2 linked regions of the Homo sapiens genome follow. The protein of the gene in region 1 purifies or fractionates together with the protein of each later gene. This does not show direct contact. Each region holds a gene or a part of one and is shown in the gene's direction. Other genes may lie near its edges.

Evidence for each region.
Region 2: the proteins of GPATCH2 (region 1) and LRP6 purify together in Homo sapiens (affinity purification with mass spectrometry; one large-scale study listed by BioGRID and IntAct). This does not show direct contact.

Annotation. Positions count from the first base shown.
Region 1 is NC_000001.11:217,610,365-217,614,189, reverse strand, and holds part of GPATCH2 (G patch domain-containing protein 2), read left to right. Parts: coding exon 1-49; intron 50-3,118; coding exon 3,119-3,301; intron 3,302-3,789; coding exon 3,790-3,825. UniProt on the Homo sapiens protein: Enhances the ATPase activity of DHX15 in vitro.
Region 2 is NC_000012.12:12,183,220-12,187,044, reverse strand, and holds part of LRP6 (low-density lipoprotein receptor-related protein 6 isoform b precursor), read left to right. Parts: coding exon 1-122; intron 123-2,933; coding exon 2,934-3,065; intron 3,066-3,825. UniProt on the Homo sapiens protein: Component of the Wnt-Fzd-LRP5-LRP6 complex that triggers beta-catenin signaling through inducing aggregation of receptor-ligand complexes into ribosome-sized signalosomes.

The DNA of each region.
Region 1 (3,825 bases):
CTCAGCAGCACTGATGCTGGATTGTTTACCAATGATGAGGGAAGACAAGGTACTGAAATGATATTTTTTTCTCTCTTTGGAAAAACTTCTTCATTCTAAAGTGGAGCTTATTACTGGTTATTTCATAAGTTGATGACTGCAATCCATTTACCTTACACATATTACTTAGTGAACTAGGATTTAGTATCGTAGCTGGTTTTTTATATGCTATGGAGGGTGTCCTGTCTTCATGACCTAAGTAATTGATTATCTCCAAAAGCTAGTATGTGGAGCTAATAATATTAAGGAAGGATTATCTTGTTTGAGAAAGCTCTAGGTACCTTTTTGATTTTCTCTCTTTTAGCAAGTTTGAAAGAAACTGGTTCTCATTCTCTAATTCCAGATGTACTTAAAACTGTTTAAGCATTCATAAAGGTGGATTTCCAAGTCATTTGTCATTTTTATTCAGCTGTGACATTTATTCATTCTATCCAGTTTGTAAGTAATTAGATGATTTTTATGAATTCAATATTGTAAACCATTAAACAGAAATGTCTTGCAACTTATATGTTTTCCATCTTTGAAACTTCCAGAAGCTTCAGTCTGTAACATGGCAGTATTTTGAAGCTATGAAAAATTTAAAAAAACCTTAATAAGGGAGCAGGATTAATCCTTAATAGGATTAATTTCATTTAGTCACACCTGCTCATGATTGTTTCCCTTTTACGCTCCATACAAATCATACATACAGATACCTATCACAAATGTTTTCTTCCTTTCTTAAGAATACATTAGAGGAAGACAGTAAGTTCCAAGTGAAAAACACTAATATAAATTTTAAATTATAAATTTAGTTAATGATGTTATAAGAAAAGGACAAAGTAGCCTCCTATACTTTTTTTCTTAGTCTGTTCATCCTTTTGGCAGTACAAAAAACATAAGTGATCATTCTTTTTTGCCTGCTTGTAAACTATTTGTCCTAAATGAATAGGTACATAACTGTTTGAAAGACCATGGACTTTAAAGTTGATACTTTGCTGAAATATGTTAGAATGCTGGGGCTAAATGCAAGGGTAACCATCCTGATAATATACTTAAATTCTCATTAAAATACAGATCTTTTCTCAGGATTGTATTATAAATGCTGATATTGGTTATGAAATAAAATGAAATGAAAAAAAGTAAAAAAAAACTTTGACAAGCCTGTCAATCTTTGATAAGTATGGAAAGGCTTAGAATGATATGCCAGCATTTATTGTGAACTTACTATGTTTCACGTTGCTAAGTGTTTTCCTTGCATTTAAGTTTTTAATTAATTCTTAAAATCCCTTTGAGATTCCCAAGTTTTTAAAATGAAGAAACTGACTCTAATAGAGTTGAAGTAACTTTCCTGATGTTACAGACACTAGAATTCTAATTGGTCTGTCTGATTTCAGAGCAAGTTCTTAATCAATGACTATTTGATTTCCCTATTGAAGAATAAAGTTGTGTATTACATCAAAAATAAAATAACTTTATTTTTCTGTAATAGTGTTGGAATTCAGATATATGGTAGTCAGTTTCAAGTGAGGCCCTGTTTTTTCTTATGCTTAAACCTGATCTGTGTAATTTTAATGTAAAGCTCAGTAAAAGTCCTGATATCTAAGTGCTGTTAATTGTGTGTTTTGAAAAATTTTTTTAATTAATTCCCCAGTAGAAACGAGCTGATGACTCTAATTTTTGAAATGCCTTTAATTTTCCATTGTGACTTAGTTGAAATATAGCTATTTCTCATAAAATAATTTTCAACTGAAGCTTAAGAGTATTTTTAGTTTTCCTTTAAAGATGTCTGTTGTAAGAGATTTTAGAAATCAGAAATATCTTTCTGTAAAGGGAAAAGTTTATGACAATTACAACGACCCTCTTAGAAACCAGAATTAGTGGTGGCTTCTCATAATCAAGGGAAGGAGACTTTAATGAATCGCAGATCATCTTAAAAATGCTGTTTGTTTCTTTCTGTTTTTCTTTTCTTTTCTCTATCTTTTTTTTTTAACACAAGGTCTCGCCCTGTGGTCCAGGCTGGAGGGCTGGTGGTGCAATCATAGCTCACTGTAACCCCAAACTGCTGGGCTCAAGGGATCCTCCTGCCTCAGACTCCCGAGTAGCTAGGACTACAGGTGCATGTCATCATGCCCGGCTAATTTTTAATCTTTTTGTAGAGACAGGGTCTCGCTTTCTTGCCCAGGTTGGTCTGGAACTCCTAACCTCAAATGATCCTCCCACTTTGGCCTCTCAAAGCACTGGGATTACACACATGAGCCACCATGACTGGCCTGTGTCTCTTTCTTTTAAAAGCCATCTGTCTTCTGTGTTTTTGTCTCACAGACAAAAAATGTTTTGTTGGGCAAAAACATCTCGATTATTTAATATAGTTTCTTCATAAACTCTAAGGTATTGTCACTTTTCATTTAAAATCAACTTTTTCAAAACTATTTCTTAATGAGCTTAATTGGATTAATTTCATTTAGTCACATCTGTTCATGATTGTTTCCCCTTTTACACTCCATACAAATCATGAAATTAAGCTAATTATATACCTATATCTGCTGCAAAGAAAGGGTTCCACAGTTTTAATACTTTTTAATTCCCAGGAGCAGATTAAGGTTTGTTTTTTCTTAACGTGGAAGGGGTAGTAACTTAAATGGATTTTCTAATAGTTTTTGCCAAAGGATTAACCAGTTTATTATTGTTTTTCACATTTTAAAATTGGTTCTAAAACATAATATTTTGTGTTTTTGTTGCTGGCAGTTCTTAGAGTCTTAAGATAACATTTCTTAAGTGAAGCTGTGGTATAAAATAAAAAGTTTTCCTTATAGATTGTATATGCAGTTGTCAAATAAAACATAGGATCCCCAATTACATTTAAATTGTAGGTAAATAACACATAATTTTTTAGTACAGGTATGTCCCATGCAGTACTTAGACATATTTCCACCAAAAATTTAGTGCAAGTATATAATACTTATATTAAAAGTTAGTCATTGATCTCAAATTCAAATTTAACTGCCATCTTGTATTTTTATTACCTGACAAGACTAATTGTGTAACTGGATGATAAAACTGAGTCTTTGGTGGGGGGGGGTTTCTTGTATTTGCACAGGTGATGATGAACAGAGTGACTGGTTCTACGAAAAGGAATCAGGTGGAGCATGTGGTATCACTGGAGTTGTGCCCTGGTGGGAAAAGGAAGATCCTACTGAGCTAGACAAAAATGTACCAGATCCTGTCTTTGAAAGTATCTTAACTGGTTCTTTTCCCCTTATGTCACACCCAAGCAGAAGAGGTCAGTAGCACTGGCTCCCTGGTAGATATAATGGGTTTAAGGTCAGTCTAGGAATATTCATTCAAGGAGGATAAGATAAAGTGGAAATTAGAGAATGTAAACACAAGATGCTGTAAAGAAACATATTGGCCACTAATATAGCTACTACATTTATCATGCTTTCAAATTATTAGAAAAATTGACTTGCTTTCTTGCTAGGCTCATTGAGAAAATGTTGAAATGATAAGAATGTTAATTCGGAAAAAAGAAAATGGGTATTTATTACTCTAGTGATTGAACACTGGTTAGTTAAGTGCTGACTGCCTTAGTACTTTGCTAGGCATTGCTTCAGTTTTTTTAAGTGTGAGTTTTGCATTTTCCCAAATAATATTCGTGGCATTCACCGCCACCACCAACTTACTTTTCTTTCTCTATTGATAGGATCCTCTTCTTCTTCTATGCTTCAGTGATCATAGAAAACTTCTAAATTGAGTACTTTGATTTTACAGGTTTCCAAGCTAGACTCAGTCGCCTTCATGGAATGT
Region 2 (3,825 bases), on another chromosome or scaffold:
CTGGAGCACACACTCCATTTTGGCTTGCAACAAGTATACTGGTGAGGGTCTGCGTGAAATCCATTCTGACATCTTCTCTCCCATGGATATACATGCCTTCAGCCAACAGAGGCAGCCAAATGGTAAGTGATCCTTGATTTTTAAATTGCAAGTTGGAACAGCTTTGTAGCACTCTAATGTCTGGCTTTAGTGAGGATCAGGAGGAGGGAGGGCATATCCAAAGATAGTTGGCGGGAATAAAAAAGAGTTAAAATCCTACTTGGGAGGCTGAGGCAAGAGAATCACTTGAACTCGGGAGGCCGAGGTTGCAGTGAGCTGAGATTGCGCCACTGCACTCCAGCCTGGGAGACAGAGAAAGACTGTGTCTCAAAAAAAAAAAAAAAAAAGTTAAAATCCCAGCACTTTGGGAGACTGAAGCAGGCAGATCATATGAGGTCAGGAGTTTGAGACCAGCCTGGCCAACCTGGTGAAACCCTGTCTCTACTAAAAAATACAAAAATTAATGGGGTGTGGTAGTGTGCACCTGTAGTCCCAGCCGCTTGGGAGGCTGAGGCAGGAGTGTCACTTGAACCCGGAAGGTGGAGATTGCAGTGAGCCGAGATTGTGCCACTGCACTCCAGCCTGGGCAACAGAGCGAGACTTTGCTCAAAAAAAAGGGAAAATGTAAAAGTATAATTCAGGTTAGGCAATAGCCTAGACCATTTTGTAGCCTGTCACTACAGACCACCTCAGCCTTTTTGAGTCAGCGCTTTTAGAGGTGGAGAAGAGAGAGATAATTTAAAAATTGAGATAGCTTATATGCTAGGCTTATACACAAATGAGTTTTTTTGTTCATATTATTTCTTTCAGTATGTAGTTGAATGTGTTGATGTGAGTGTGTTTAAAAAACAAACTCTTGGGCCAGGCGCGGTGGCTCATGCCTGTAATCCCACACTTTGGGAGGCCAAGGCAGGTGGATCACTTGAGGTCAGGAGTTTGAGACCAGCCTGGCCAACATGGTGAAACCCCGTCTCTACTAAAATAACAAAAATATTAGCCAGGCGTGGTGGCGTGTGCTTATAATCCCAGCTACTTGGGAGGCTGAGGCTGGAGAATCGCTTGAACCCGGGAGGCAGAGGTTGCAGTGAGCCAAGATCACGCCATTGCACTTTCAGCCTGGGCAACAAGAAAGAAATTATGTCTCAAAAAAAAAAAAAACAAAAAACACACACACACACAAAAACGCCTCTTCTTTTTAAATGAAAACTCTGTTAATCTAGAATATATTTGAATTTAAGTACCTCAGCTTGCTAAATAAAATACCTACTTAAACTTTTCTGTGTACCCCTCCCACCTTGTTTTCCTTAGTTTTGGTTCTGTGTTTGGTCAGCCTTTACAATGACTCGGGCTATGACTGCTGAGAACTTGTAAGAGAGGACTGGAATTAGGTTTAAAAGGAATACGAGAATGTTAAGGGTTTGGCACTTTTGTGTAAATAAATGTCTGGCATCTGTCTGAGTGTATTTCAGATTTTATTACATAGCCAAAAATGAAGAGATTTTGCAACATATGTTGCTTTATATTAGCTCTCCATTTAGGGGGAGATAATCAAATATTGAAAGTGTTATGTTGGAATCTGATGATCATGAGCCCATAAAAATGTTTTTAAGTGTATGTGTTACTCTTCTGTACAAAAGAAAATGTTCAGTCACTTGTATGAATTTTTTTATTCTTCATAGCCCTCAAAAGAGAATTTTCCCTGTTTTTTGTTTGTTTTTTGAGATAGAGTCTTGCTCTGTTGTGCGTTTATGTGATCACGGCTCCCTGCAGCCTCGAACTTCCAGGCTCAAGTGATCTTTCCACCTCAGCCTCCCTAGTAGCTGGGACTACAGGCATATGCCACCACACCTGGCTAATTTTAGTATTTTTTATAGAGGTAGGGTCTCACCATGTTGGTGACCCAGGCTGGTCTCAAACTCCTGGGCTCAAGTGATCCACGCACCTAGGCCTCCCAAAGTGCTGGGATTATAGTCACGAGCCACCGTGCCTGGCCTCTTGTTTTTCTTTTTAAATGGCATTGTTGGTCCTTTATGTTTTACTAATTTGAGAATTTGCAGTTATCTTTCATGTTGGTTACTTTTATCTTTCATGTTCCATTGGTCTCCATCTTATGTTGATTTTTTTCTATGAGTATTGTTTGGACATATCCCTTTCCATAATTTCCAAAGTTTGCTAATTAGTTTTCTCTGATTTTCATTTTCCCCTTTTTTCTGCTTATCCCTTCTATGTTAATCTTCCCAAGGCATGACTTTTCAACATAATTACTTTTCTTGGCTTTCAGTGTCCTTCACTTTAATCTATTCCCATTCTTTGTATTCATTCAGCTTTAGTTCCTATTAGTCAGTAGAAACCTTAACCTCCAGTTATACTGTTCACCTTAATATCTTACCCAGTTTATAGCCCCCAAAGTTTTATTCAGATAGCTTTACCATACTTGAAATGTCCTCTTATCTATCCTTCCTATCCTTGAAGGCTCCCGTGCTGTATACTCCACAAAGCTCTTCTTCAATTCTTTAAACCTCAGCGGTTTTTTTCCCATTTGACTCTGTACTTATTGTCTATAATGTGCAAAATAGCACTTAGTTTTATTGGTTTTGTTTGTTTGTTTGTTTGTTTTTAGTTTTGCTTTTTGTTAATTTTGTTTAACTGACTAAATTGTAACCTCTTTTAGGGCAGGGATCTCCTGCTTTACTTCTTGTGTATTCCTCTTTGGTTACAAAATACTAAGTAAATTCACACTGATTAATTCCTGTCTTTGCAGATGGTTTGATAGTCAAGCACCTGCATGACATTTGGTAATAATTTTGGCTTATCACAGTTGTTCATGTTATGGTTGTTAACCTTTGTGTACTTAGTAATCATTGATATTAATCAATGTGATTTATATTTGACAGCCACAAATCCATGTGGAATTGACAATGGGGGTTGTTCCCATTTGTGTTTGATGTCTCCAGTCAAGCCTTTTTATCAGTGTGCTTGCCCCACTGGGGTCAAACTCCTGGAGAATGGAAAAACCTGCAAAGATGGTAAGAAGATATTATCCAAAATGAAAAATTTTATAACTATTGGAATTCTTCATGATTTGTTTTCTCTATAATCAGCTCTCTAGGTTATACTGCTTTGGGAGACCAGTCACTTAATTTCACAGTCTTCACACATGGTTATAGAATAGGAGTGTTTTGTTCTGTGGCATCACTTGAATGCTATTTTATAAATTATTTTAGTGTTTTAAATAACATATTTTTGAAAAAAGTTACGTGTTGTATCTTTTCTGTCAAATCTCATAGTCATTGATATCACAGTTGATAACTATGGAAATGAGTAGTCGCATAAGGAATATATTTTTAACAGGTAGCATTTGTGAATAAAGAACCTCTGTGAAAGAAAGTATGTTTATTAAACTTTTAGCTACAAAGAATATCATGAGATATATTTTATAACAAATTATTTAAGGATGTTTTAAATTGCTTTTTAACAACAGAGAGATGCTTTCAGAGCTGGGAAAAAAAATCCATATTTAAAACAACTTCTTTTTATACTTAAGAAACACACTTTGCCTGTTCTCCTTACTCTTAATTCCCTATAGAGAGAGGGCACGTTGGAGAAAGTATACTGATTTAGGACATTTTAAGGGACTTCCAGTTTGGAAGAACACCAGTTCTTCTGTTTTTCTTCTTAATGAGAATGTTATTCTTCATTCTCACCCCTATGGATCACCATCTGGTTCTCTAGCAACCAGCAAGACCTGGTAAGAAAATTGTTGTATTTAGCTGTGGCTTCTTTATC